Homo sapiens: one gene and its partner. The protein of the gene in region 1 binds, or shares a complex with, the protein of each later gene. Each region holds a gene or a part of one and is shown in the gene's direction. Other genes may lie near its edges. The genes, in order: POMC and OPRM1.

Evidence for each region.
Region 2: the proteins of POMC (region 1) and OPRM1 are in contact, whole or in part, in a cryo-EM structure (PDB 8F7Q), measured with the Homo sapiens proteins. Residues at the interface, in NP_000930.1 of Homo sapiens: Tyr237, Gly238, Gly239, Phe240, Met241, Thr242, Ser243, Glu244, Lys245, Thr248, Pro249, Leu250, Val251, Leu253; in NP_000905.3 of Homo sapiens: Ser66, Met67, Ala70, Ile71, Met74, Gln126, Asn129, Tyr130, Leu131, Met132, Gly133, Trp135, Val145, Ile146, Asp149, Tyr150, Met153, Arg213, Ile217, Asp218, Cys219, Thr220, Glu231, Lys235, Val238, Ile298, Val302, Lys305, Trp320 (codon at 5,007), Ile324 (codon at 5,019).

What each region holds. Positions count from the first base shown.
Region 1 is NC_000002.12:25,165,472-25,181,023, reverse strand, and holds the start of POMC (pro-opiomelanocortin preproprotein), read left to right. Parts: upstream 1-12,443; 5' UTR 12,444-12,526; intron 12,527-15,338; exon of another isoform or gene 15,339-15,388; intron 15,389-15,552.
Region 2 is NC_000006.12:154,086,260-154,101,358, forward strand, and holds part of OPRM1 (mu-type opioid receptor), read left to right. Parts: intron 1-247; exon of another isoform or gene 248-1,545; intron 1,546-3,502; exon of another isoform or gene 3,503-3,566; coding exon 3,567-3,919; intron 3,920-4,692; coding exon 4,693-5,213; coding exon of another isoform or gene 5,214-5,228; exon of another isoform or gene 5,229-5,549; coding exon of another isoform or gene 5,550-5,630; exon of another isoform or gene 5,631-5,698; intron 5,699-7,010; coding exon of another isoform or gene 7,011-7,187; exon of another isoform or gene 7,188-7,261; intron 7,262-7,950; exon of another isoform or gene 7,951-8,059; intron 8,060-15,099. UniProt on the Homo sapiens protein: Receptor for endogenous opioids such as beta-endorphin and endomorphin. Receptor for natural and synthetic opioids including morphine, heroin, DAMGO, fentanyl, etorphine, buprenorphin and methadone.

The sequences.
Region 1 (15,552 bases):
TACAGTGAGCCGAGATCATGCCACTGCACTCCAACCTGGGCGACAGAGTGAGACTCCATCTCAACAAACAAACAAACAAACAAAGCAAAAACTATTGAAACAAACAAAAAGGAAACCTGTATCCATTTGCAGCCACTCTTCATTTCCCATTGACACTCCCAACCCCTAGCAACCACTAATCTACTTCCTGGCTCTATGGATTTGCCTATTCTGGGTATTTCATATAAGTGGAATCATACAATATGTGAACTTTAGTGTCTGACTTTTTCCAATTAGCATCATGTTTTAAATATGCATCCATGTTGTAGTATATATCAGTATTTCATTTCTTTTTCTTTTTTTTTGTTTGTTTGTTTTTTTGTTTTTTTTTTTGAGACGGAGTTTTATTCTTGTTGCCCAGGCTGGAGTGCGATGGCATGATCTTGGCTCACTGCAACCTCTGCCTCCTGGGTTCAAGCGAGTCTCCTGCCTCAGCCTCCCAAGTAGCTGGGATTACAGGCATGCACCAACACGCCCGGCTAATTTTGTATTTTTAGTAGAGATGGGGTTTCTCCATGTTGGTCCGGCTGGTCTCAAACTCCCGACCTCAGGTGATCCACCCACCTCAGCCTCCCAAGGTGCTGGGATTACAGATGTGAGCCACCACACCCCGCCAGTATTTCATTTTTTTTTTTGTTGTTCTCAAATAATATTCCATTTTATGGATATATCACTTTTTATTTATCCATTCATCAGTAGGTAGACATTTGGGTTGCTACCACTTTTTGGCTCTTATGAATAATGCATCTGTGAGCATACAAATTTTATCAAAATGTGTGGAAAAATGTTTGAGTATATACCTAGGAAGGGAATTCCTGGGTCATATGGTAACTCTATGTTTAACATTTTGAGGAACTGCCAAACTCTTTGACAAAGTGGCATTATTTTACATTCCCATCAGCAGCAAAATACCCTTTCAAGAGTAAATAAATAAGTAGTGAGACCTTATTTATTATCTTGAAATGAAATTCATTGATAATATAACCTTCTCATGTTCATAATACATAGAAAAATAACTTCAACCTAAAGGTTGAACGATAATATAAAGGATAAATTAAAAGAACATAATTTATACATGTTTTTGTTTTTTGAGACAGAGTCTCACTCACTGTGTCACCCAGGCTGGAGTGCAGAGGCACAATCTTGGCTCACTGCAACTTCCGCCTCCCGGGTTCAAGAGATTCTCCTGCCTCAGCCTCCTGAGCAGCTGGGACTACAGGCACACACCACCACACTCTGCTAATTTTTTGTATTTTTAGTAGAGATGAGGTTTTGCCATGTTGGACAGGCTGGTCTCAAACTCCTGACCTCAAGCGATCCACCCACCTTGGCATCCCAAAGTTTTGGGATTATAGGTGTGAGCCACCATGCCCAGCGAATACATGTTTTTTGAAATGAGATGTTGAAGTCAGAGACTGGCCTTCTCAGGCGGATTAGACCTGGTCTGGAAGCATTTCCCCTAAGGGGTCTGCCAAAGGCTCCAGCCCCAGCCCCTCAATGGCACCAAGAACAGCTGCCTAGGGGGATGCTGGGAAAGGAATCACTTTCAACTGGACATAAAGGCTTTGGACAGCGTGTTAAAAACAAACCAAACTACCTTTCAAACCCATTTCAGGAGTCGTTGCACCCTTCCCATCACACACACACACACATGCACACACACATACACGTGCATGCACATGCACAGACACACACAGAGTCATGGGCTCTTTGAGCTGCTGCATAGCAGGTCACTGTGCACCAGCTCTGCCCAGCCTGGTGTCCCTCTCCTGGGGCAATGGGACTGAGGGCACAGTGGGGGCTCTCCGGGCCGCAGGTGGGCTGCCTGGATTCGCTGTCCTGGCTGCTCCATTCCTTTGAGCAGCAGGCATGGAAATGGAAGATGGGTACCTAACGGGGGCGGGGGCTGGAGAGGGAGACTGAGCTGAGTGCCTGTAAAAAGGCCACTTCAAGCCCCCTCCACGCAGCCATTGTTGGGTCTGGAGGAAGGAGGACCGCTCGGAAGCTTCTGAATGCCGCCCTGTGATGCACTCACTAATGGATGTGCATTAGTGGCGTCCTTCCTGGCCACCACGTCACTCTCCCTACCTCAACTGCTGGCTGGAGAACTCCGCATTCTTCTGGAAAAGTAGCAGTCATGCTCGAGCCCCTAACAAAGGCCTGTCCCCCACAAAAGGACCATTATGACCACCGCTGAGTCAGAATGGTGGCCGCTGGCACCTGAGCTCTGTCTGGAAAGAGCGGCAGCAGGGACGTCATCTAGCAGAGCCTGGTGTGTCTGTTATGTCCACAACATCTTCAGCAAAGACACTACTTCCAGGAAGTCTACTTGGATTGCAGAGGCGCAAGCCTTCATTGTGAAAAAAGGGCTTGGGATAAGGGAGTGGTTCTAAAAGAATACATGTGGCTCCACATGGCAATATACCCAGGTGTAATAAGCTCAGGGTAAGAGAGAACCTGCCATTGCTGATGCAGGACTGTGCACACAAACTTACAGGCTCTCTACTGGGGTGTCCCATGGAACTGGCTCTGTGTGAGGAGCGGCTGCAGAGGGCTCTTTGATCAGGGCTGGCTTTCCACAGGCCACTTGGACCCCATGGGTGGCTGCCTGCAGCAGGAGTGCTGGTAATTAGTGGCCCCATTAGTTTCCTCTGGGATTCAGAGTGAACAGAGCAGAGAACTGGCCTGCCCATGTGTGCAGACTGGAGCAGATTCTCAGAGAGAAACAGGACACGAGAAAGGCCCAAGAGACAGAAGGACAGAGCTTACCTCCTCAGCCCAGAGGACTCAGCTGTGCCCATTAGGGGCCACGTTCTGTAAGACTATTGTTTGTTTGTTTTTTAATCACAGAGCTTGACTCTAGATCTGAGCCTAGAATCATAGAATGACAGGCCTGAAACGGACCACATCCTCCCCGCCCCCATTGTTCAAATGAGGGGGCTGAGGCCTGGAGGTGGGGTGGGGGTGGGGGGAGTGACTGACCCAGGTCCCTGTGTCTGCTGGCCACAGAGCTGGGGCTAGAACCCAGGTCACCTCACCCCCTCCCACTGCTTCTTCCTCCACTCTATTTTTTTTTTTTTCTGAGGCAGGGTTTGGCTCTGTTGCCCAGGCTGAAGTGCAGTGGCATGATCATGGCTCACTGCAGCCTCCACCTCCCAGGTTCAAGTGATCCTCCCACCTCAGCCTCCTAAGGAGCTGGGACTACAGGCGTGTGCCACCATGCCCGGCTAATTTTTGTATGTGTGTGTATATACGTGTATATATATATATATATTTGTAGAAATGGGGTTCCACCATATTACCTAGGCCCTTCCTCCACTCTTGACTCTGCTTTGGACCCTGAGGGTGCTGACAACCTGCTCTAGGGAGGGGCATGGACTCTGGCCCTCCCCACTGTGCTCTGCGGCACCCAGACCATGCAGACCTTGGCCCAGGCTGCTGCACTAATGCGCGCATTAGTGGATAAAAGCAGTCTCAAGGGTCTCTTCACGAGGTCCCTTTGGCTGGAATAAAGCAAATTAAAACCCCATTCAAAGGTCAATTGAAATCTCTTTCATTCCAGTTCTCTGCACAAATTGATTCCTCTTTGCCCTTGAGGTCAAACCGAAGGCTGGTGAAGTAGCCCAGCTGCAGTGCTGCATGAGAGAAGCTCAATGAAAAGGCTGAGACTGGGGAGGGCGTGTTGCAGGGGTGAAGCGGGGCAGTGGGATCCGCCTGAATTGTAGGGCCATCTGGGGCACCAGTAACCCTCTCCTCTGCAGTGCTTCAGGCTTCAGGCCCTTTTCTGGAGGCAGCTCCCTGTCTGCCCTGCAAACCACATCAGGCTCCCCTCAGAGGGATGCTTAATTAGGGTTTCTATTGACAATTGTGGGTGCCAAGAGAAAATTTCCTTCCTTCACTCTGCCCTCTGAAGTTTTGTTGAAAATGAACTGCTAATAGACAGATTAATAGGGGAACAAGACATACAAATTAATTTCATGTGTATAGCATAGCAGAATGGTGGGAGAATGATTACCCAGTAACTCAATGAGGTCCAGATGCCTGCAGATATTTCTTGATAGGGGAAGGGAAAATGAGGGGCATAGGAGTAAATGATTTTCTGGGAAAGTGAATGCGCCCGAGGAACAATGGCCTGGGACAAAGTTCTTCTCTGTTCTTTGGGTAGGTGGTGTGAAGGTGAGAAGCAGAAAGTCATTGTGAACGCAGCCTGTCTTATTATGCAGGTAACCCCCCTAGGCTATCTCTTGGAGTTGCCCTCAGAAAAATGCAAGAAAAGTCTGTCTGGAGGCGGTGATGATCCGTCTCTTCTCAGGTGGTTAATCTTTCTTTCCTGGTTATTTGATGAGATTCCTATGAAGGGAGGCTTCAGGCAATTGTATTTCTTTTAGAAAGAAGTTTCCTTAGTCAGATATGGAAATGCCAAAGACAGTACCTTCTGGTGTTTTGGAAAAAATCAGAGAGACAGGGAGTGAGGGGAAGGTCAGGGCGAGATTTTGAAGGTTCTTCAAAGGAACTGAAGCTGCTTCTTTAGTTCCATATTTTGGGGTATAATTTTCTGAGCCCCAGTGCAATTTTAGCGGTAGTTAGGATTTCTTGAAAGTGCTCACGATTCTTGAATGCCCACATAAAGGGGAAGATACTGGGCTATTTCTCATTCAGACACAATGAAGAGGAGGCACTTCCCTGTTTCAGGTTCATGTGTCCTACAGAGGGAGTACGGAGATGTTACTGGAAAGGAATCCCAATCCGGACCCCAAAAGAGGGTCCTTGGATTTCACGCAAAAAAGAATTCTGGGCAAGTCCATAGATTAAAGTGAAAGCAAGTTTATTTATTAGGAAAGTAAAGGAATGAAAGAATGGCTACTCCATAGGCAGAGCGACCTGGAGGGCTGCTGGTTAACTTTTTTTTTTTTTTTCTGAGACAGAGTCTTACTCTGTTGCCCAGGCTGGAGTGCAGTGGCGTGATCTCAGCTCACTGCAACCTCCGTCTCCCAGGCTCAAGCAATTCTCTACCTCAGCCTCCCAAGTAGCTGGGATTACAGGCGTCTGCCACCACGCCCGGCTAATTTTTGTATTTTTAGTAGAGACAGAGTTTCACCATCTTGGACAGGCTGGTCTTGAACTCCTGACCTCGTGATCCACCTGCCACGACCTCCCAAAGTGCTGGGATTACAGGCTTGAGCCACCACGCCTGGCCTGGTTAACTATTTTTATGGTTATTTCTTGATGGTATGCTAAACAAGGGGTGGATTATTTATGTTTCCCCTTTTAGACCATATAGGGTGACTTCCTGACATTGCCATGGCATCTGTAAACTGTCATGGCGCTGGTGGGAGTGTAGCAGTGAGGACCAGAGGTCACTCTCTCAGTGGCCATCTTTGTTTTGGTGGGTTTTGGCCGGCTTCTTTACTGCAAACTGTTTTATCAGCAAGGTCTTTATAACCTGTATCTTGTGCCGACCTCCTATCTCATCCAATGACTTAGAATGCCTAACCATCTGGGAATGCAGCCCAGTAGGTCTCAGCCTCATTTTACCCAGTCCCTATTCAAGATGGAGTTGCTCTGGTTCAAACGCCTCTGACAAAGAGGGTTTTGGAGAATCATGAGTTTCTGCAAACTGAGGGTTAAGAGGGAGAGGGTCTCCCTTCCTCATTCATCCCCTCCTACCCTTGCTGTACAAATATTTTTCAAGCACCAACTCTCTACCAGGCACTGATTATGGGAGCTGTGCCCTTAGAGGCAACCGGCACCAGCTGAGCAGCCCAAGGGCCCCTCTAGACCAAACAACAGCAGGAATGAAGAGGCCCTGGCTGAGCCTAAGGAGTTCCGAGAAGGGACAATTGTTATTCCATGAGACAGGGATGGCAGCTGCCCCCAGCTTGTCCATGGAGACTATGGAGAGAGAATGAAGAAGGGCGTGCCAAGGTGGAGCTGGGGCTCCTCGTTCAGACCCTTAAGGCATGAATTGGTGCTTATTCCAGCAAAGTCCCCCACAGACATGAGGCAGCTTCATCCCTAAGTCTTCTCTTCTCCCAGGGTAATGTCCCCCATTGCCAGTCCCAATGCCTGGAGGCTGACAACGAGGCCACCCTCCTTGTACCTCCTTATCCCCTGCCCCATGTTGGGCTCTGCCACCCTGTCCTTGTTTCTGTCCTCTCAGTCATCAGCCTCCCCTGCACCTGCCCTTGTAACGCACTCACACCCTGGTGACATCTCTTTTCCAATTAAAACCTCAAAGGTGAAAAGCTGAGATGATGAGAGCAGCCCCAGCCCTACGTCTACAGCCACCTGGCACGCCCGCAGCCAGGTGCAGGTGCATCGCCCCGGCCCCAGGAGTCCTCACAAGCAGGGTCTCCCAACAAACCCATCAGCTACCCTGTCCAAAAGACCCTGTGTCTGCTCCTGTCTTACCTCCTTCCCTCCTTTCTTCCCTCCTTCCTTCTTTCATTTATTCCTTCCCTCCTTTCTTCCTTCCCTCCCTCCTTCCTTCTTGTCTTCCTTCCTTCTTTCCTTCCCTCCTCCCTTCTTTTATGTCTTCCTTCCCTCCCTTCCTTGCTTCTTCCTCCCTCTCTTTCTCCCTCCTTCCAACCTTGCCTTCTTTCCTTCCCTCCCTCCTTCTACTTCCTTCCTCCCTCTATCCCTCTCTCCCTCTCTCCCTTCCTTCCTTCCTTCCTTCCTTCCTTCCTTCCTTCCTTCCTTCCTCTTCCCTCCTCCCTTCTCACCAACACTCCCATAATATTAAAGTTAAGGGCTAGCAGTTGTACAGGACTAACTAGGGACCAGGCCCTGCTCTAAGATCTTTACATGAATTGCCTCCTTTAATCCATATGACAGATAGTGGTCGAGCTGGAGTATACAAACAAAAAGAAGCTTTTGAGCCCCTGAAATACCATAGGCAGGAAGCAAGCAAGAAAATTATTCAGGTGCAAATCTTGGCTATTATGGAAAAGGAAAGCTAACACAGAGAATAGACCAAGAGCCCAGAGGATGGAACCAAGAGCCCAGAGGATGGAACCAAGAGCTAAGGAGATTCATTCCGGGCAGTGGAACTGCCTTCTGAAGGAACTGGTCACGTGGTCACACGTGCCAGGCCAGATTTCAGAATTTCCTTTTTTCTCTTTTCTCTATTTCTTTCTTTCTTTCCTTTTTTTTTTTTTTTTGACAGAGGCTTGCTCTGTTGCCCAAGCTGGAGTGCAATGGCCTCACTGCAACCTCCGCCTCCCAGGCTTAAGCGATTCTCCTGCCTCAGCCTCCCAAATTGCTGGGATTACAGGTGCAAGCCACCATGTCTGGCTAATTTTTGTATTTTTAGTAGAGATGGGGTTTCACCATGTTGATCAGGCTGGTCTCGAACTCCTGACCTTGCGATCTGCCCGCCTTGGCCTCCCAAAGTGCTGGGATTACAGGCATGAGCCACCACGCCTGGCCCTTTCTGCCATCTTTATCCTTGATCCAACATTACCCTCCACCCACAATCACCATTCAGTTCATAGAGTTTTGTTTTGTTTTGTTTTGTTTTGAAACAGAGTCTCGCTCTTGTTGCCCAGGCTGGAGTGCAGTGGCATGATCTTGGCTCACTGTAACCTCTGACTTCCGGATTCAAGCAATTCTCCTGCCTCAGCTTCCTGAGTAGCTAGGACTACAGACATGCGCCACCATGCCTGGCTAATCTTTGTACTTTTAGTAGAGACGGGATTTCACCATGTTGGCCACAGTGGTCTGGAACTCCTGACCTCAGGTGATCCGCCTGCCTCGGCCTCCCAAAGTGCTGGGATTACAGGCGTGAGCCACTGTGCCCGGCTGAGTTGTGCTGTTTTTATGCCAGGATCAAATGGAGAAATGCACAAAAATAGTGAGGAGATTTAAAAAGCATACTTTTCTCAGTAACTAATAGAATAAGACGACAAATAGCAAGGATATAGGTAGAGAAAGGATATAGAATATTTGAGAATATACAGTCACAGAATACAGTGCAGTGAGACACTTCTTTTGGAGTGCACAGGAAGCCCTAATCAAAATGAGCCCTATGTTTATCTGTTAAGCAAGCCTCAAAAAATTTCGAAGGTCTGAAATCAAACAGAGCATATTCTCTGACTACAAGGGAATTAAGCAAAAAATTAGTTTAAAAACATGACTGGAAAATCCCCAAGGTTTAGAAGTTTTTCTTTTTTTTCTAAGTTGGTAATATGAATTGGAAGGGTTAGAGGTTAAGCAGAATATATTTGAATAACCTATAGGTCAAAGAAGACATCTCAATGAAAATAAAAAGATATTTTGAACAAATGGTAATTGAAATATGACATATCAAAAGTTGTGGGATGCATATAAAGCTGTACTTAGAAAGAAAATATAGCCATAAATACATATGTAAAAAAAGAATAAAGGAGCTGGGCACAGTGGCATGCATCTATAGTCCCAGCTACTAGAGAGACTGAAGTGGGAGGATCACTGGAGCCCAAGAGTTGAAGATGAGTCAAGGCAATATTAAAAAAAAAAAAAAAAAAAAGGAAAAAAATGGTTCAATATCAATTATCTAAGTAAAAGTATTTATTTAATGTCCAACTCATGAGTATAGGAAAAGAATAGCTAATTAAACCCAAAGATGTAGAAGGCACGATATAATAAGAGTAAAAATTTCAGAAATATAAAAAAGTATACATATAGTACAGAAAATTAACAGAACCAAAATGGATTATTAAAAAGACTAATAAAATGGATAACACCCTAAGAAAACTAATCAAGAGGCCAGGCACAGTGGCTCACGCCTGTAATCCCAGCACTTTGGGAGGCTGAGGCCGGCAGATCACCTGAGGTCAGGAGTTTGAGACCAGCCTGGCCAATATGGAGAAACCTCATCTCTACTAAAAATACAAAAAATAAGCCAGATGTGGTGGCACATCCCTGTAATCCCAGCTACTTGGGAGGCTGAGGCAGGAGAATTGCTTGAACCCGGGAGGCGGAGGTTGCAGTAAGCCGAGATCATGCCATTGCACTCCAGCCTGGGCAATAAGAGTGAAAGTCTGTCTCAAAAAGAAAAAAGAAAATGAATCAAGAAAAAAGAGAACACAAATAACCAATATCAGAGATGAAAAGGGCCAAAACCACAGATCCCAGATGCTTAAAATATATAATAAACAATTTTAAGCCAATAAATTAAAGAATTTAGATGAAATAGACAAATTCCTAGAAATACATATCTGACTCAAACTGACACATGAAGAAGTAGACAATTGAAATAGTGCCACTTAAGTAATTGAATTTGTAATGGTTTAAAACATTTTTCCTTCTTTTTTCCAGCTCCAGCTGAAAGGATTGATTCTGTAATTAAAAACTTCAATGAACAAACAATCTTAAAGATTTAGATGGCATCACTGGTGAATCATCCCAAACATTTAAGGACGAGATAACACCATTATACGCAAATTATTCTACTTAATTATAAAAAGGGGGAGGGAAGATGGATTTCCAACTTGTTTTATGAGAACAGCATAATTTTTTGATACTCAAATTAGACAAGAATTCCACAAGAAAGGAAAATTACAGGCCCATCTCATGAACATCAATGCAAATGTCTTAAATAAAATATTAGCAAATTGAGTCCAGTGCTTTCTGTATAAGGATAATACATCATAATCAAATTGGGTTTAATCTAAGAAGCCATGGTAGGTTTAACACCAAAAAATCAACAATGCAATAATTCACCACATTACTAGAATAAAGGTGAAAAATTATGTCATGTCAGACAATCAAAGGCACCTGTTCTAGGCTTTCAAAGAGGAGCTAGTGGTACAAGGATGCAAGGGCAGTGGTGACTCCTTTCTAGTGGCATTAGCTGAAGTGAGAATGGCAGCGTCCCATCCTGGGGACAGAAGTGACGTCTATGTCAGACGCCTGTGGTCTTGACATGCCCCTTGTGGCCCCTTGTGGTCTGTTTTTTTTTTCTCCACTGGATGTGATTTTGGCCATGGTTCCAGCCACACTGTGTCCCTGCCCATTTTTAGATCCTGGTCCCCCAACCTGCCCAGTGATTTTTTTTTTTTTTTAGATGGAGTCTTGCTGTGTCGCCAGGCTGGAGTGCAGTGGCGCGATCTCGGCTCACCGCAACCTCCGCCTCCCAGGTTCAAGCGATTCTCCTGCCTCAGCCACCCGAGTAGCTGGGACTACAGGTGTGCGCCACCACGCCCGGCTAATTTTTGTATTTTTAGTAGAGACGGGGTTTCGCCATCTTGGCCAGGAATGTCTCCATCTCTTGACCTCGTGATCTGCCCAACTCAGCCTCCCAGAGTGCTGGGATTACAGGCGTGAGCCACTGTGCCCCGCCTACCCAGTGATTCTAAATGCAGTTCAATGGCCTTTCAGTTCATGGAGGCCAAAGCAGGTTCTGCTGCATTAAATTAAGAAACTGGGCTGGGTGTGGTGGCTAACACCTGTAATCCCAGCACTTCAGGATACTGATGTGGATTACTTGAGCCCAGGAGCTTGAGACCAGCCTAGGCAACATAGTGAAACCCTGTCTCTACCAAAAACAAAAACAAAAACAAAACAAAAAACCAAAACCCAAAATTAGCTGGGCATGGTGGCATGCATCTGTGGTTCCAGGTACTCAGGAGGCTGAAGCATGAGGATCACTTGAGCCCAGGAGGTGGAGGCTGCAGTGAGCAGTGTTCACACTGCTGCATTCCAGCCTGGGCAACAGAGTGAGACCCTAATTCAAAAACAAACAAACAGAATGAGAGAGAGAGAGAAGAAAAGAAAGAAGGAACCCAGTTAAAGAAGTTGGGTCCATTTGGATTTTTCCTGGTTTGTTTTATCTGCTGCCACCAGCAGCCTCCTGAAGTTACAAAAATAACACAAAGTAAAATAAGGCAAAACCACCATCTGCTTGAAAGAGTTTACAAACCTGATGGTGGTCGTGGGGTGGATGGAAGATTAAAAAAATGGGGACAGAAGTGAATTAGTGCAAGCCACTTGCACTGACAAGATGGGGATGGACTTCTGTGGAAGGCAGAGGAGGTCATGCCTCATGCCCCTGGTAGGAAAAGTGGCCAAAGAGGGCTTCAGAGAACAGGGGCTGATGGATGGGCTACATCTTGATGTGAGTCAAGCTCCTGGATGGCTGGAGAGAGGAAGGATGTTCTAGTTGGGGGAACAGCTTGGACAATGGAGACCCAAGAAAGCCATGTTCTAGCAGTGTGAATGTTGTGGATGCTGAAGTGCCAGGATGCAAGGTGGAGAACTGGGAAATGGCCCTGGAAAGGGGCCAAAGCCGGGTGATGAAGCACCTTGTCTACTGTGACGGAGCTTGGATCTCTCTTGTGGTCCAAAGGGAAAGGATTGCTGAATGTAAAGCCAATGTCACCAGAAAAGCTGAATCCACAAGAGAGTCCTGGAGTCCAAAAGAGCATCTCATGGGGAATCAGGAAAGTTCTGGCATTTGGCAGATTAAGCAAGTGTCTTGATTTGAAGTCCAGTTTAGTCCCAATACTCCCTCCCACACCCACCACATCGCACAATTTGGTTTTGTTTATTTACTCCAGGTTAAGGTAGAGTCTCTTAGCTTGGTTTGAGTGCTGTACTCTTCTCTCTGGTCTGATATTTGGAACTAAAGCCAAGCCAGAACTCCAGGGCCAAGGGGGATGTTGAAAATTGTCTGAGTCCCCAGACCACCCTGCCAGCTCATGGCAAAGGGAGGGATCAGAGGCCACAGGGAAAGCACTTCAGCTGCTCTTCACAGCATCACCCTCTCCCCATTTAATGGTTTAGGTTAACAGGACTTTTTCCTTGAGGCTTGGGACACGGAAGGGAGCCTCCCCTAAACCAGGCCCTTGGAGAGCAGGCCCCAGGGGAGCAGTGCAACTCACCTTCACACCCACAAGACGGCTCCTGACTTCTGCTCCCTCCTCCCCTCCCCAAAGTGGAACAGAGAGAATATGATTCCCCACGACTTCCACATCACAGTTTCCAAACAATGGGGAAATCGGAGGCCTCCCCGTGTGCAGACGGTGATATTTACCGCCAAATGCGAACCAGGCAGATGCCAGCCCCAGCACGCACGCAGGTAACTTCACCCTCGCCTCAACGACCTCAGAGGCTGCCCGGCCTGCCCCACACGGGGGTGCTAAGCCTCCCGCCCGTTCTAAGCGGAGACCCAACGCCATCCATAATTAAGTTCTTCCTGAGGGCGAGCGGCCAGGTGCGCCTTCGGCAGGACAGTGCTAATTCCAGCCCCTTTCCAGCGCGTCTCCCCGCGCTCGTCCCCCGTCTGGAAGCCCCCCTCCCACGCCCCGCGGCCCCCCTTCCCCTGGCCCGGGGAGCTGCTCCTTGTGCTGCCGGGAAGGTCAAAGTCCCGCGCCCACCAGGAGAGCTCGGCAAGTATATAAGGACAGAGGAGCGCGGGACCAAGCGGCGGCGAAGGAGGGGAAGAAGAGCCGCGACCGAGAGAGGCCGCCGAGCGTCCCCGCCCTCAGAGAGCAGCCTCCCGAGACAGGTAAGGGCGCAGCGTGGGGGACCCGTGCTCTTTCCCCGGGATCCCCTGTCCCCGTCCTCGCGATGCAGTCGGCCGGCTCCGGCTCCGAAGGCGGACCTGGGCGCCTCTGGCTCTCCGCGGTCCCGAGTTCTCGACAAACTTTCTGCGCCGACTGCGGCATGAGAAGCCGCCAGTAGCTGAGCTGGAGGGCCCACGTCCGGCCCCTGGGCGGACGGCCGCGAAGCTGCAGGCGCTGTCTCCAGGGAGCCGGCGGCCTCCTCTCCCCCAGGGGCTCGCGGCGGTCCGGAGGCTCCGAGAGCTTGCTAGGAGGTCTTGGGACAACCCGGTCTTTTTTTTTTTTTTTGAGACGGAGTTTCGCTCTTGTTGCCCATGCTGGAGAGCAAAGGGGTGATCTCTGCTCACCGCAACCTTCGCCTCCCGGGTTCAAGCGATTCTCCTGCTTCAGCCTCCCGAGTAGCTGGGATTACAGGCATGCGCCACCACGCCCGGCTAATTTTTGTATTTTTAGTAGAGACGGAGTTTCTCCATGTTGGTCAGGCTGGTCTCAAACTCCCGACAACAGGTGATCCGCCCGCCTTGGCCCCCCAAAGTTCTGGCATTACAGGCGCGAGCCACCGCCCCCGGCCAGCCCGGTCTTTTAGTATCTCTTGCTCCCAGTTTCCAGGATAGGTGTCACATCTTGAAAGTCAAATTCCATACACGCTATCGCAAATTAATGTTGGAAACGGGGCAGCAGAGAAAAGGATAAAAGTCATAATGAACGCCCTGCCTTCCGGATTTTTTCGGATTCAGACCCCTGAATCCTTGTTTCCTTGCCCACCTTAGCGCACCCGAGGTGGCCGCGCTATGATAATTACATGATAACTGGGTCAATTACAATGCAGAATAGTTGGGTCTCTTCTCTCCAAGACCTAGCTGGGGTTAAAAACAGGTGGCCGGGGCGGGAGCTGTCCTAGATCCTGAAACGCACTGTCTAGTTTCGGATGCCCTCAACAGAACCGGGGTGGACGGTTTATGGCGCAGATCCTGGGTTGAGGGCACGGGCAGCCATTTGGAATGATCAAGGCTCAGGTAAGGGGCGTTTCCAGCGAAGGAGAGACAGTCCACTTGGCATTTGGATTCCCCAAATTCTTCATGTTTAAATGGGGCAGGGAGGGTTCTTACAGAATGGCTGGAAGGAGCCAAGGAAAATAAAAGTGTGTGTGGATTTTTTTTGTGTGTGTGTCAGTTTATAAACTCTGCACAGATTATGGCCACTTTAATGACTTACTGTTCCTTTGATGCTTTTGTTATAGGACTCGATGCATGTATGTCATGGTGTAAGGACAAAACTCGGCCCCTGTGCTCCTCTAATCTTTACAAAAGGTCATGGCCAGCGTGCAGTTTTACAGTAACAAGCAAAATGATTTGTTGAGCTCATAGAGAGCCCCTCACACCTATGAAGTTCTAATAAGTGTAGTTCTACTATAAAGTTAATCTCAGGATGAGCAAATTTCAAGTTTCTATTTTTCCAGAGCTTTCCATTTTTGGATTATAATACTTTCCCTACTTAAAAAAGCACAACATTTGATATTTCCCCAATAATTTGTTGCTTTAAAAATGACACAAAAGGTACTATTTGTTCATTGTAGAGAACTGAAAATACACATAAGCAAATACACATACACATAAGCAAAATATACAATACAAACACAAGACCATCTTTCAGGGAAGAATCTGAAGTTTTAGCAATAGCAGCCATCTAACCAGTTTAGCAACAGAATATAAGCTCTGAGAGGGTGGGAGTGAATATGTTACCACATTGTACAACACAGCACATAGGGCATAAGGAGGGGAAATGCTCTCTGGGGCTTTCCAGGAAGGCCTGAAGTCATTGCTTCTAGCAAATGGAAATCACTCCAGAGTAGTTATCTTTGACAAGAATTGAAATATAATTGAGGGAACTATCAGACCTGTAAGATTTTGTTTTTTCCTTTACTAATATGTTACTTTACATTTGCATTTGGTGACATACGTAACTACCATTTTTCTGTGACTGTAACATCTGGGCATTTTTCAGAGCTAAATGTGCTATGGTCAACTTGGAGCTTTAATCTAATTGCCTGGTCCACCAAGTTCTGGCTGTGTACTTGAATAGATCACTGGCAGGGTACAATGGGAACAGCCTGTCCCTTGGAGCCAGGAGAGGACACCAAGGTTGACCAAAGCTCGTTCAGTTGCCCCTTTAGCCGAAGCGCACCTGGGCCAGTCACTGGCTGCCAGTGCCATCTAATGGCTGCTCTGAAAATGCTCAGCCTTGCCCGGCAACCCTTCAGAAGCTAGCACCGTGCAGGCCCAGCGCCTGGGGAATAGGGCGAGGGTGGGGTAGAGAGAAGGAAGTGGCCTCCTGAAGTAGAAATCAGCGCTTCAGAGGACTTTCACTTCCAAAGCCTCCCCTATATAAAAAAGATTTGGCCCACGCCTCCCCAAATGAGAGATTTATTTTAGGCAAACTTATTTTAAAATGCCAGCGTTCATTAGGAGTGACAAGACACTTAGTCATCCACGCTTTAATGTGAATTACTTTTCTCATCTAATTACATTTCTTTCTAGCAGCTGGCTGAGAAGATCTTCTGAAATCCAAAATGATTGTAGGGTTGGCGGTGAGCTGATCTCCGGCCTCGAGGTGGCTTCAGGGGGCCCACCTGGTTAAGGGAAATTTGGCAGTGCGAGGGTAGTGCTGGAGAGAGGGGTGGGTACAGGGGGCTAGGGGCACCATGGATGCCCCCTCCTTACTGTCCCCTGGTGTCTTGACCTCAGCTTCTGCCCACAGGCACTTGCTGGATTCTCCAAAAGTATCTGCAGTGGCTGTTCCACCAGGAGGTAATTCCCTTCTGGTCTCTTTCCCCTCCACATCTGCATCCTCTTCAAATCCTGCCATTTCAGACCACATTTGAGAGCTCTAGAGAACAAGACATCTGACACGTGACGTGTCCAGAAGATGAGCCAGATTTCAAAGAACTGAGATCTGCTTTAAAAACGAAGCT
Region 2 (15,099 bases), on another chromosome or scaffold:
CGTTGAGCCCCCTTTTATATGTTGCTGTGATCCAAAGCATGAGTAACTGGGGTAAGAATGCTGGCTATCTTTAGAGGAAGACTTTTTAAATAAATTGAGAAAAATTAAACAGCATCATTCCTATAAAATGCCCGTTGAAAGAATTTTTATAGATAAATATTCACTTTTTTTTGGTAAATTGATGATAAAATTATGTATATTTACCATATACAACATGATGTTTTGAAATGTATACACATTGTGGAATGGCTAGCATGCTAATTAACTATGCATAACCACGTTTCCTTTCACCATGTTGAACCCTGACATAATTTTTTTTTCCACAAACACCTCACTCTGGAGAAGGAAATGATTTTTTTTAATTAAAATAAACATACATTGGAAATACTTAGTGCTAAAATAAGCCTGAAGGAAAGGTTGGAAGTATGATGAGTCAGAAAACTGACTGTAAAGAAACCAATTACTTAACATAAAACACCATTAAAGATAAGCCACGAAATGTAAGGTCTGCTGGGTAGGAAAGTGGCAAATGCAATGAAGCATGTCTTTAGATCATGCAGGTCTATAACCAACGGTGAATCTAGCAAAAGTTATTTTCTCTTTTGGGGAGAAACTTCTTCTTATTAAAAAAATAAAAAATGTTTCAACTTCTTGAGCACCAAGGTCAATTATTCTAAATCTTAAAACCACAGTTTTAATTTTGCTTTTTTGTTGGTTTTTGTACTTTGGAGTATTTGTCTACATTATCCTTTTTATATTTGCCATATTTAAAGTCCAAACTAAAAGCAAATTATTTTCTCTCCTCAAGTTAAATGGCTCTATCTTTTTCTTTAAAATCCATTAAGAAAGTGAAACTCCCAAAGTAAGTCCAAAAAAAAGCCCCCAAGTCTGAAAATGTGGAGCTTTTCTGGCAGTAATGCAGCTTCTGCAAGTATTGCAGACCAGATCAGGTATCAGAATTTTAAAGCTTCAGTAACAAAGCTGTCCTATTGACCCTGAGGAGATTTATGAAATCACTTTCCTGATGTTATTGAAACCAAAACACTTTCCTGGACACTGAATTCAGTCCTAAACAAAGGGCCTCCAACCAACAGCTGTCTTGGGCTGAATGAGTTAGACTCAACCTCGTGTGACGGAAAAACAGTAAACACAAGCTAACATTTAAAAGGAATTGATGGCACCGTGTAAATCAGAAGCCCAAGGAGGGCCTGGCTTCAGGTGTGGGGTTCTCTCTCACGCTCTCAAATCCACATCCTCCGGATTAGGTCCATTTTCAGACAAGCTCCTCCAGCAACTACATACCATGCGTCTTCTCAGGTGTGGGTCCTGCAGGAAAACTAATACACTCTTTGTCCATAAGTCTCAAAATAAACTCTCACTGGCTCTGGTTGGAACATGAGAGCATCCTTGCCATTCACCATGGCCCCGGTCACTAAACGTCTTCACGCCCTGGACTGGTAATACAGCCTATCCCAAAGCACCTGGACTGAGAACGGGAAATGAGTGGTTCCCAGAGTGAAACTGAGGTACTATTACTAAATTAAGGTAAATATATGTGGAATGTTAAAAAAAAAATGATGTCCAATGTTTACAAGGTATACTTCTGCCATCAGATATAATGTATTATTGCAAGTGTACCTGCTTATATTCTACTATCATATTTCTAATTTCTGCAGGCCTTGAAAACATATAACACTCCTAGATACTTACCCAGGAGGAAGAAAAGCATATGTTTATATAAAGACTTGCACATGAATGTTCGTAACAGTTCATTTGTAACATCCAAAAGTTGTATGCAACTCAGTTCCCATTAATAGGTGAATGGATTAAAAAAAAAAACAGATGAATGCATAAGTAATACTACTTGTCAATAACAAGGAATTAATTCTTGTTATATGCAACCACATAGATGAATCTCAAAATAATGACACTGAGTGAAAGAAGCAGCACAAAAAAAGAGTACATACTGAATGATTCTATTTGCATCTTCTAGGAAATGCAAACTAATCTATAAGAACAGAAAGCAAACCAAGATCAGCAATTGCCTGAGGAATAGTGAGGGTTGGATATGAGGACAGGGAGGGGCAAACAGGAAAGATTAAAGAGCTACACAAAGACACTTTTGGGAGCAATTGATGTCATTATCTTCATCAGAGGTTGACATTTTTTTCTGTAAAGTGCAAGATAGTAAATAACTTAGGCTTTGCATGTCATCTGATCTCTGTTGCAATTATTGAACTTTGCCATTGTAGCATCAAAACACTTATGGGTTTTTAAATAGGTGTATTTATTTATAAAACAGGCAACGGTCCAATTGGGTCTACACACCATAGTTTGCCAATCTCTGATCTTAATTATGGTGGTGGTTTCACAGGTGTACACACGTATCAAAGCTTATCAAATTGTATACTTTAATTATGCGTTATTTATTATAGGTCAATTCCACCTCAATAAAGCATTAAAAAATAAAAACAAAGCAAACACACTTGGGTTCCTCATCATGGATTGGATAGAGTCTAATCTTACCATGGCATACAAGTTCTTCATGTACTGGCCTCTCTTCTTCCCCAGTCAGATCCCTTGCCATTCCCTGGTAGAATGTGCTTGACACACACATCAGGCCATTCCAACTCTACATCTTTGTTGGGGTTCTCTCTGTTACCTCTCTGTCTAGAATGACCTGCTCCTACCAAGTGTCTAACTCAATCATCCTGCTTGTGCTTTGAGATTAAACTTGCACTTCCAGGATGCCTTCCACATCTTACTCCTACTATTCCCTTTGCCTTATGCTCTGTGAGATGCCTCATCTCTGTGCCCCATAATCGCCTGTGTGTTTGTATGTGCATGTGTTTGTGTACATACCTATAGACACTTGCACAATTATACTTCTTGATAATTTTAACTATATTTATATAGCTAAAATTTTCTCTTTTATATTTAGAATTACTATCCAGTCGCTGCCCCTACTATTTGACTGGAATCTCCCTCTTTCTATTAGACCTATCACAATGACTGACACATTACAAAAAAAAAAATTAAAACCCTCACTGCGTGTGGTGTCTCATGCCTGTAACACAAACACTTTGGGAGGCCGAGGAGGGAGGACTGCTTGAGCCCAAGAGTTCAAGACCACCCTAAGCAACATGTCAAGACCCTGTCCCTACAAAAGTTTTTTAAAATTAACAGGGTATGGTGGCATGCACCTGGGATCCCAGTTATTCAGGAGGTGAGGCAAGAGGATCTCTTGAGTCCAGGAGGTTAAAGCTGTAGTGAGCTCTGTTCATACCATTACACTCCAGCCTGGGTAACAGGGCAAGATCCTATCCAAAAAAAAAAAAAAAGGAAGAAACTCAACAAAGCAGCATCGTTGCTATTATTGCAGCTATTTAGCCAATAGGTACATCATTGACATCATTGTAAATAGCCAAGCTGATACTGGAAAACAATTCTATATCTAATCTCAAAAAAGCTTTCTACTAATTCATGCAAATTTATTATTGGAAGCTTACCTATATTTTACACTAGTGTCTTTTACTGATTCTCACTCTTCTTCCTTTATCTCCTAGATACACCAAGATGAAGACTGCCACCAACATCTACATTTTCAACCTTGCTCTGGCAGATGCCTTAGCCACCAGTACCCTGCCCTTCCAGAGTGTGAATTACCTAATGGGAACATGGCCATTTGGAACCATCCTTTGCAAGATAGTGATCTCCATAGATTACTATAACATGTTCACCAGCATATTCACCCTCTGCACCATGAGTGTTGATCGATACATTGCAGTCTGCCACCCTGTCAAGGCCTTAGATTTCCGTACTCCCCGAAATGCCAAAATTATCAATGTCTGCAACTGGATCCTCTCTTCAGCCATTGGTCTTCCTGTAATGTTCATGGCTACAACAAAATACAGGCAAGGTGAGTGATGTTACCAGCCTGAGGGAAGGAGGGTTCACAGCCTGATATGTTGGTGATGTCATAAGCAAAGCAGTATTTATGGAGTGCCCCATTGTCTTAGTCACATTGTAATTTTAATTATTCTTCCTAGCAAAAAAAGCCTTTGAATACTTAAAAATAGGAATTTTCCTCATAATTTTAGGCCTATTAAATCCTTTAAAGAGAATGTAATCTATTTATTTCTGATTTCTCTGTATTTACTTCATAAAAATGGTGTGTAAATTAGTACATAGCTCTCCCAAGAGTAATTGGAGCTTAAACCCAAAGAGTATTACACTGAGGCTTGTTTAAAATTATCAAGTGGCTGACTACATGGCAAATGTATCTTTCTACACCTAATATCAGAATATTGAACAATCCATCAAAAAATGAAGTGAAAACATCCATTACCTGGAGCCGCCTAGAGACTTTGGACAATTATTACATTTTTTATATCAATATAGACCTCATGGAGGATCTAGCTCATGTTGAGAGGTTCATTTTTGTTCCCTGAACGAAAGCTTAATGTGATCGAAGTGGACTGCAAAATGGGAAATTTAGAAAAAAACAAAAAACATTAGAAGTAAAACTTTCTTTGAAAAGTAACAAACAACTGAGTTTCTTCCACAATTTCTTTATAGCCTTAAGTTAGCTCTGGTCAAGGCTAAAAATGAATGAGCAAAATGGCAGTATTAACACCTTATGACATAATTAAATGTTGCTGCTAATTTTTCCTTTAAATTCCTTTCTTCTAGGTTCCATAGATTGTACACTAACATTCTCTCATCCAACCTGGTACTGGGAAAACCTGCTGAAGATCTGTGTTTTCATCTTCGCCTTCATTATGCCAGTGCTCATCATTACCGTGTGCTATGGACTGATGATCTTGCGCCTCAAGAGTGTCCGCATGCTCTCTGGCTCCAAAGAAAAGGACAGGAATCTTCGAAGGATCACCAGGATGGTGCTGGTGGTGGTGGCTGTGTTCATCGTCTGCTGGACTCCCATTCACATTTACGTCATCATTAAAGCCTTGGTTACAATCCCAGAAACTACGTTCCAGACTGTTTCTTGGCACTTCTGCATTGCTCTAGGTTACACAAACAGCTGCCTCAACCCAGTCCTTTATGCATTTCTGGATGAAAACTTCAAACGATGCTTCAGAGAGTTCTGTATCCCAACCTCTTCCAACATTGAGCAACAAAACTCCACTCGAATTCGTCAGAACACTAGAGACCACCCCTCCACGGCCAATACAGTGGATAGAACTAATCATCAGGTACGCAGTCTCTAGAATTAGGTATATCTACTGGGGATGACATAAAAATTATAAGGCTTTGTGCTAAACTAGGAGTTTAATCCATTATAGAGGATGAGAATGGAGGGAAGAGGGGAAGCAAATTGTGGTTCTAGTGTTAGAGAAGAGGTTTGTTATATAAACTGTGTTCTTTATATTTGACTGTACATATTCATTTAGGTATAAAGATACACCAATGAGAAATCCATGAAACTATTCAAAATAACTATTTTTATGGCCTTTACTTCTATGCAAAATTTATGACTTTAGCACATTATAGAAATAATTCTGATCTAGAATCCTTTTCATTTTCCCCAGAATTATTATATAATTCATAGATGTTGCTGCAATACCCCTCTTATTTCTCAAAAGCCAGTCTTGCTCTGGTTCTGTGATTAAAGAGAGAGGGTGAGTGCCTTGCCCACTGTGGTCATGGATGCAAGATATTCACAGAAAATTAGCATCATGGAAAAGGAGAAAAGATTAAAAAATGACCATCCCTAACTTTTCTTAAGCTATTGGTTTGCTACCTGAACTCTAGCACAAATATCAAACATATTAGACTGAATAATATATTATTAATATGTGAATATTAATCTAATAAATTTTATTAGATTAAACAATTTTTAACAGACCTCATGCTTGTTGGAGATAATAGGGTGAATAGCGACTAGCTTTTGGAAGGTGTATTTCTGTGCCCAGACCTACACAGAAAATTCAAGACTTATACACACTATTATAATCATATGGGAAATCAACAAGGAGGAAAGAGAAAAGGCTGTCTCCAAGTTAGTATTACTTGATTAAGCCACTGGTTGGCTAAATTTGACCTCTGATCTATAAAATCAATCAAATACATGGCTTAATTTTTAATATTAATCTAAGTAAGTAAATTTTAAATAATGATGCCAGCATCCAAAAATCACAGCCTGTATAATTTTTTTAACAGTGAATTCAAATTCAAACTTCCTATGAAGTAAAGGCTGGAGTCAGAATCTTGGCTAAAGTTCCTAGAGTCAGGCGTCAGGACTGTGAGGACAGATGGCTCCGGAGAAATGAATAGCAAGTCAAATGATTGAGGAGCTAGGGGAGGCCTTTGCCACCACAGGGTGCAGTGGCTTCCTCCTGCTGTCTCTTGACCACACCCTGTCTCTCACTGTCCCCTCTTTACCCCACTCTGCCATCCAGCCCAGCCCAGGCTCAACCTTTCTAATTGACCAGAGGACTAATGTAATATGGCCCAGATACATCCGTCATGGGCGACATTAATCCTCATACCCCTGGTATTCAGTGATGCTCAAGGGAACACAGGAACTCACACCCCCTAGAGAGCATGAGGTAATGATGGCAGACCCACTTCCAGACAAAGGGAAATTAACTTATTATGTCTCAGTTCTAATTCCATTTCAGAAATGAATGCCAGAAAGAAATGGTTTTGACTCTGCTTCTTTTCTCTACGTTTTTTTCCACATCAAGACTGCTAAACCTACTCCTTTTACTAGGAGCTACTTTTAAAAAGTAATTGCAAAAACAGCGATTACTTTTGCACCAACCTAATGCTAAGCAGCCCTCCTATTCAGTGGCTGCTAGAATCTTGTAAGTAACTTTAAAAGGGCAGGGATTTAAATAGATTTTCACCAACCTGGGGATAACATGTTAAAGATTGCAACTTAAAATGCCTAGTCCTCAGCTAAGGATAAAATATTTTGCTTTGAAGTAAAATATTTCCATTGGAGCAAAATAATGGCCATTATAAAGTACTGACTCTTTCTCCTTTAGTGCCTACCTATACCTTCCCTGTCTTGCTGGGCTCTAGAGCAAGGCTGCTTGGTTGTGTACCCTGGACCACTGCAAGGACCTCTTGTCAGATATGACCTCCCAGCTATCCTTCACTCGTCCTGCCTTCGTGGAAATACTGCTCCCAGCCCGTCTGGTGGAGCATTTCTCCTGAGTTAAGCATGATTATTCTTCAGTTGCCCGACACTGCCCTTGACTCCCTTCCAAATTCGGCATTTTCACATCAGTATGGCTATTGTACAGCCAGATAGAAGAGAAAAGAAGCTAATTGGAGGAGTTCTGTTCCAAGTAACTAAAAGGTTTGCTTTAAAAATACATCCAATTAGGCCTTATCTTCATCGCTGCCTCTATGAAGCAGTATCAGTGTAAGATAACAGCAGAAACACATTAGCCCTCGAATTGGTTGCTGTCCCAAAATGCCCAACTGAGAGAACTGGACACAGAAGAGAGGCTGCCAGGAAAAGAGGGAAAGATGCTCTGACATATTTAAAAATTAAGATAAATCAAAGCTCCCTTTGGCTAATCTCCACTGATGTGTCATCATTAGAATTAAAGCAGTTACAACCAGACAACTGGAACAATACATAAGCTGCTAGTGATAGTTTCAATAATATATCAACATAATAAAATGACTTGAAGGAGAAATTGGAGACTTGATGGCTGTGTCTATAGGACATGTTAAGTTAGTTGTACAAATCCAGAATGTGATAAACAGGTGTTTGGTCGTTGTTTCACATCATGACCCATCATGTTGGAAAACAAAGCTAATAGGATTTGCATTTAACTTTTCAACTACTTGTTTGAAGTTTATATTGGTTGTGGATGTTTATGTTCTGCCTTATGTATTTGTACTTTCTTTGAGGAATATATTATACTCTATATGTCACATTTCAAGCACATTAGTCAACTTCATATTCTGCAGATCAGAGATCCAATATCAAACCTTCCCAGGGTGTCTGTATTCTGACAACTGTCCACTGAGGCAATTTCCATACAGCGCAAAGTGGAGTGGCGATTTGGCAGTTATCAAGGTAATTTGATAAGCCAATGAGAAAATTCTGTGCCCAAAATAAGCTTAGAGTCATACTTACACAGTTAAGAGCTGCTCAGTCAGCTTTTGTTACATTACAAATCATTCCAAAATGTAGTGGCTAGAAGCAACCATTTATTTAGTTTACAATTCTGTAGAACAGCCATTGGAGCTGGGCTTGGCTGGACCGTTCTTCCAGTATTGGCTGGGCTTGCTCGGAGGGCAGCTGCCCGATGGGCGGGTGGTCAGCTAGCTGATCTACATGGCCTCAGCAAGAATGACTAGCTCCACATGGACTCTTACCGTCTAGCATGTTACCCCAGCCTTGTTCTCATGGTGGTCACAGATTCCAAGAGAAAGAAAGAGAGAGAGAAAAGAGGAAAGCGTCTTTTGGCATAGAGTAGGAATTGGCATACGGTCAACTCTGTGGTTTTATAGGTCAAATAAAGTCATCCTGCCAACCTAGATTCAAAGGGTGAGAAATTAGACTCCATCTCTTGCTGATAGGATCTGCAGTCACATTGCAAAAGGATAGGTATATAGGGAGCGAATAATTATGACCACTTCTGCTAACAATCCGTAGTAAGGACATGCTGCATGAGACAGGGAAGCCATTACTTCCTGAGGGCAGGAGCCGTGTCTGTCTTGCTCTCCCAAGCCAGAGTCTAGCACATTAAAAAGAAAGTACTTCTGGCCAGGCACAGTAGCTCATGCCTGTAATCCCAGCACTTTGGGAGGCCAAGGCTAGTGGATCACCTGGGGTCAGGAGTTCGAGACCAGCCTGGTCAACATGGTGAAACCCCGTCTCTACTAAAAATACAAAATTAGCCAGGTGTGGTGGCACATACCTGTAATTCCAGCTATTTGGGAGGCTGAGACAGGAGAATCGCTTGAACCTGGGAGGCAGAGGTTGCAGTGAGCCCAGGTCGTGCCATTGCACTCCAGCCTGGGCAACAAGAACGAAACTCCATCTCAAAAGAAAGAAAGAAAAGAAAGAAAGTACTTCCAAAACATCCAAAGCATTGGACAGATTCATGTCTGTTGAATAAATGATGAGAGGGCTGAGGATATTTCAGGAGATGTGGCAGGCATGACCCCTTCATCATGCAACTGACGAACAACCTAAATGACTATGTACCCTAACCCTCTTACCGTCAGTAATGGGAAAATATTCAAAATAGGCCTTCTTCCTTTTCTCCTCCTCAGCCTTTGCTACTCTGATCCAATGTTATTTATACTTTTCAAAAAATCAGTTACATTCATGGTTGTTTTCTAATTTTATTTCTAACGCGTACTTTTGATAAGGAGACCAAGAGATTGATTCAGTGCCCTAAAGAGGTCTTTCCCTAGCTGAGTATGAAAAAACAAAAAAGATGGTCTCGTGTTTTTTTTGTGCATGCCTGGGCTCAGCCTACTGCTCCAGCTGTAGCCTCTGTGCCTGATTTATGTTCAGCTTGCTGTCTTTATGACTTTTAGATCTTTATTAGGTAGACTAAGGCATAGGCATTCATTTTCCATCTGTTCTCAGTGCAATTTAATTTCTCCACACACGCCCTACACTGCTGTTGTCCTATTGAACTCCACTTTGCTTTCAAACCCTTCCCTTGTTTATTTCGATCACTTCAGGTTCAACTCAAACCTGAACTGTTGGCCACTGCTAACCTGCCTTGCCCACTTGGTTTCCACCCGCATCATATTATCTAATGCATTTTCTTTTTGTTGTTATTGTTGTTGTTTGTTTGTTTTTTGATTTTTAGTTTGAAATGGAATTACTCTGTCGCCCAGGCTGGAGTGCAGTGGTGCGATCTCAGCTCACTGCAACCTCTTCCTCCTGGTTCAAACGATTCTCCTGCCTCAGCCTCCCCAGTAGCTGGGATTACAGGCATGCGCCACCACACCCAGCTAATTTTTGTATTATTTTTAGTGGAGATGGGGTTTCACCTTGTTGGTCAGGCTGGCCTCAAACTCTTGACCCCAAGTGATCCGCCCACCTCAGCCTCCCAAAGTGCTGAGATTCCAGACGTGAGCCCCTGTGTCTGGCCTCTAACGCATTTTATATCTTGACACGTAGGTGATTATTGAAAACGTTTAGCATTATATGGGGAAAAAAGCAACACTGTTACATCAGTTGAATTATCACTGAAACGGTAGAGTTTGGTGCAAAAGTAATTGCGGGTTTTGCCATTACTTTCAATGGCAAAAACCGCAATTATTTTTGCACCAGGCTAGTACTAACAACCACTATAATAATAATGCTGCCTTACATTTATATGGCAATGTACAGATTCAAAAGTGCTTTTATGGGCATTATCACATCTGCTTCCTATAACAACTCTGATGGGTAAATGTAAGAAAATGCTCAGGGAAGTTAAATCATTATATAAGATCAAACAGCCAGGAAGAGGTAGAATCCAGACAAGCACCCAGGGCTTCGAATATTACTCCACAGCTTTTCTCTGCTTTCCTACACAATGCTACTTTGCACTCAATTATTATCACATGGTCTCAGCCAGATTCTCAACATTTACTATGAGCTCCAGAAAATGTAAGTTCTTAAGAACTGCTCTAATAAATTATAGTTTGTTATGTGAGGGTCCAAGAATCTGCCTTTTAAATAAAACAATAAACTGAAATCTCTTATTTAAACTGTACCTTCATCTCCAAAGTAGCACATTTACTGTTTTGTCTAACCTGTCTAGCCATTTCAGTCAAGCTGATTGACATGAATGTTTTCACCAAATGAGTTATGTGTTTTGTGAAATAATGTAATTATCCTTGGAAAAAGCCTTAATATTCTGACATATCTACCCGTGGGTCTTACAGGAAAAAGCAATATAATAGTGATAAAGTGAACGTCGTGGCATGTCCTGCTAATTCCTTTCCATTAATATGGCAAGTCCAGTCCTAAACCCTCTAATTACTATTATTAAAGCACTTTCTTGACATTTTAATCAAAATAGCGGGTCAAGAAGTTAGGAGATGCTCTGTATTTGGTTTAACTGTGAACTATATTATCCCCAGCTAAACTAAAAGCAGAAGCCTACTTTTAAAATAAAATACATCACTCTCAAAAGTTGATCTCAGTTTTTTTTACAAGACATCTGTGGAGAGTTAATTTGGGAAAGTAATTGTTTCAATTCAATGGGAAAAAAAACTCAAATGAGAATAGCTCACAAAATTACAGCAGTGGACAACATTAATGCTTATTTTGTGAATGAAATCAAAATGGCTATTCTTTCAGTTCTACAGTTTAAAAAGAAAATGGTTCCGTGTGTGTGTGTGTGTGTGTGTGCGTGTGATATAGGCATGTCTCTTTTTGCATGTATGGAATTAGAGTAAATGTAGGTTTAAAATTAATATTTCATGCATAGCAGAAGAAATTAGTATGTGTTTCTATAAATTATTGTGATATGTGAGAGAAAATGTTGTTTAGTTAAAAATGTGTTTATCCCTAGAAAAATTTGGCTTTTAGACTATTCATAATAACATATATTGACCATTTTGTGTCTGGGATGGGATATCTTATTTAATCATATTAGATATGGATTGTAACCTCTACTCTATAGTTGAGGAAACTAATGTTTAAGGAAGTAACTTGCCCAAGGTCATAGTTAAAATGTAGTGGCTGAGGGTTGGGTGCAGTGGCTCACGCCTGTTATCCTAGTACTTTGGGAGGCCAAGGCAGGAGGATTGTTTGAGGCCAGGTGTTCGAGACCAACCTGGCCAACATAGCAAGACCTTGTCTCTACTAAATTTATAAAATTTTAAAAATTAGAAAAAAAATTTTAATTAGTGGCTAACTATTGACTCCAGTTAAATTCCATCTTATAACCCAGGCTTTTAATCAATGTGCCCTGATATATTCCAGTCTATTTTTCACTCTTCTCAGCATGGTCTCAGACCTGAGAAATTTAGGGAAATTTAGTTTTAAAGATTGGATTAACTAAAGTGGTGCAGTATCTTCTTTTCCTGACTGTTCTAACTAATGTAACTAACTGAAAAACAGCAACATATTTTTCCTTTCAAAACTAACAAAATGAGATGTCATCTTATTTGGTTAAACTTAAGTGGTGAATTGCTATTTTACAGCCATTTTTTGTAAAAATACTCTCACTGAGATTTAGTGTTTTGGAACATGTCAATCTTTATTTTCTACCTCATGTAGTTTTGGATGCTAAATATGAAAAGGTGCATATTTTTCTCTTTTAACTTTCAACAACACCACGTTTATTTTTACTTCTACCTCTATGATTTTGAAATGCAGTTTCACAGTATTTATTTTTGCTTTTGCATTTTCTCCTTCACACTAAAGGAAAGGATATTTGAATGTATATGACCTATCACAAACCAGCTGTTAACTTTTGGATGTCATTCTGATCACTATATCTTTTGGCAGGTTGCAAATAAATATTTGTAAATTGCTAAAATTTGACAAAAATGGCAAAATTAATTTGGAGAGTACATTATGAGAAATAGAAATTTCTGTGGGGTGTAGAACAAAATTTGTCTTATTGATAATTTTCCTTTTCTAATTATTATTTCCCTGGAAATCAAGAATCCAAAGCCACAATTTCATCAGTCCTCTCCCTTCACACTCAGAATTTGTTTCTTTATAGAGTAGAGTTTCTGAGTTTCACGTGAATAGGAACTTTTCATGATGAAGAAAAAAAATTAGAGCCAGACCAGGTGCAGTGGCTCTCATCTGTAATCTCAGCATTTTGGGAGGCCGAGGCCAGTGAATTGCTTGAGCCCAGGAGTTCAAGACCAGCCTGGGCAACCTGACGAAAGTCGATCTCTGCAAAAAACAAACAAACAAAAAAAGCCAGGCGCGGTGGCATGCACCTGTAGGTCTAGCTACTCAGGAGGCTAAGGTGGGAGAATTGATTGAACCTGGGAAGTTGAGGCTGCAATGAGCAGTGATTGTGCCACCGCACTCTAGGCTGGGCAACTGAATGAGAGTCTGTCGAAAGGAAGGAAGGAAGGAAGGAAGAAAGGAAGGAAGGAAGGAAGGAAGGGAGGGAGGAAGAGAGCGAGAGAGAGAGAGAGAGAGAAAGAAAGAGAAAGAAAGAGAAAGAAAGAAAGTAAAGAAAGAAAGAGAGAAAGAGAAAGAAAGAGGGAGGGAGGAAGAAAGAAAGAGAGAAAGAAAGAAAGAAAAAGAAAGAAAGAAAGAAGGAAAGAAAAAGAAAGAGGAAGGAAAGAATGAGAGAAAGAGGAAAGAGAGAGAGGGAGAGAGGAAGGGAGGGAGGAAGGAAACCATATCGTCTATGACTTCTACTCTACTGCAATAAAATCTCTTAAATAAAGATCATACACATATATACACACATATATATACACACATGTATATACATATATACACACATATATATGATGTGGGTAGGGGAGGCTAGAAACAAGATTCATTTCAAATGTTAAATTGTAATTGTAGTTTTTAAAAACATGGAGAGTTTTCATAATAAACATGAAGAGTTTCATAAAAACATGAGTTTTCATAATATATATCAAATATATATCATATCAGGATATATCATAATATATTATATATTATCATATGATATATATCATAACATATTATATATTATATTATGATATATATCATAACATGTATTATCATATTATGATATATATCATAACATATATATTATCATATTACGATATATATCATAACATATTATATATTATCATATTATGATATATATCATAACATATTATATATTATCATATGATATATATCATATGATATATATCATGATATATATCATATTATATATTATCATATTATGATATATATATTATATATTATCATATTATGACATATAATATATATTATCATATTATGACGTATCATAATATATATTATCATATTATGACATATCATAATATATATTATCATATTATGACATATCGTAATATATATTATCATATTATGACATATATCATAATATATATTATCATATTATGACATATATCATAATATATATCAAAAAGTCACAGAGCTCATGCAAGCCCAGTCATCCCCATTGCCAGTGGTGTGTGCTAAAGGAATACACCCATAAATATTAACCCTAACTGGTGTGAGATAAGTATGAATTTAAGGTAGTGCTTGTTGCTTTACTGTGTATGAATCAAAGGAAATTAACCATCTTGTCTTTCTATAACATCTGAACATATTAGAAACACATGCAAAGAAATAAATAGCCTGATAAATTGGCTCCATATCATTATCAGATACCAAATAAATATAGGCTGAAAATTTCATCACAATTTGAATATTGGTCCTCTCAGTTTAAGAATGAATATATAGAAAAATAATGTGAGCAATTTGTCTGTATAAAGTGAAGTATTTCTTGGGAAAGAAGGAAAAAGAGCTAATGTATAGAGCACATTTTTTGTGTAAAATCAGCTACCATCTACTATTCTGTTTTCTATACAGACACCAGAAATCCCAAGAATACTAGATATCTACAAAATCTAGCAATCCCTACCTAGGTTCTTTCTACTTTTGTCACATTATCCAATATTTATAAAGGTTAAAAAATATATATTTAGGAGATTTTATAAATATAAATATATATGTATATATAATCCAGGATTCGTAATATATATTTACATATTATATATATAAATATATATACACACATATATAAAATTCAAGTTTTCTATACCTAAGTCCCTTGAAGTGTAAAAAGTAAATGATTTATTATGATGAAATGGATTCCTTTAAGATGTAATAGAAAAGCAAATCCTATGAAAGATGATATTAAGAAATAAGAATAACTTAATCAACAAATAGCAAAATATTTTTTAAAACGTTGACAACCAGAAAATTCAGTGAAAGGTGGATGTGGGATGAGATATGACTACTGTACATTTGACAATACAATCATCTATTTAACTCATTTCATAATTTGTCGACTTAAGAAGAATATCTCACTCTTACTCTTCTTCATTCTTCTCTATTATATTAGCTAAGGTGTTCTTATATTCAAAATTCCTGAAGTATCATTAAATATGGGCTCATTCAAATTCAAACCATCAACT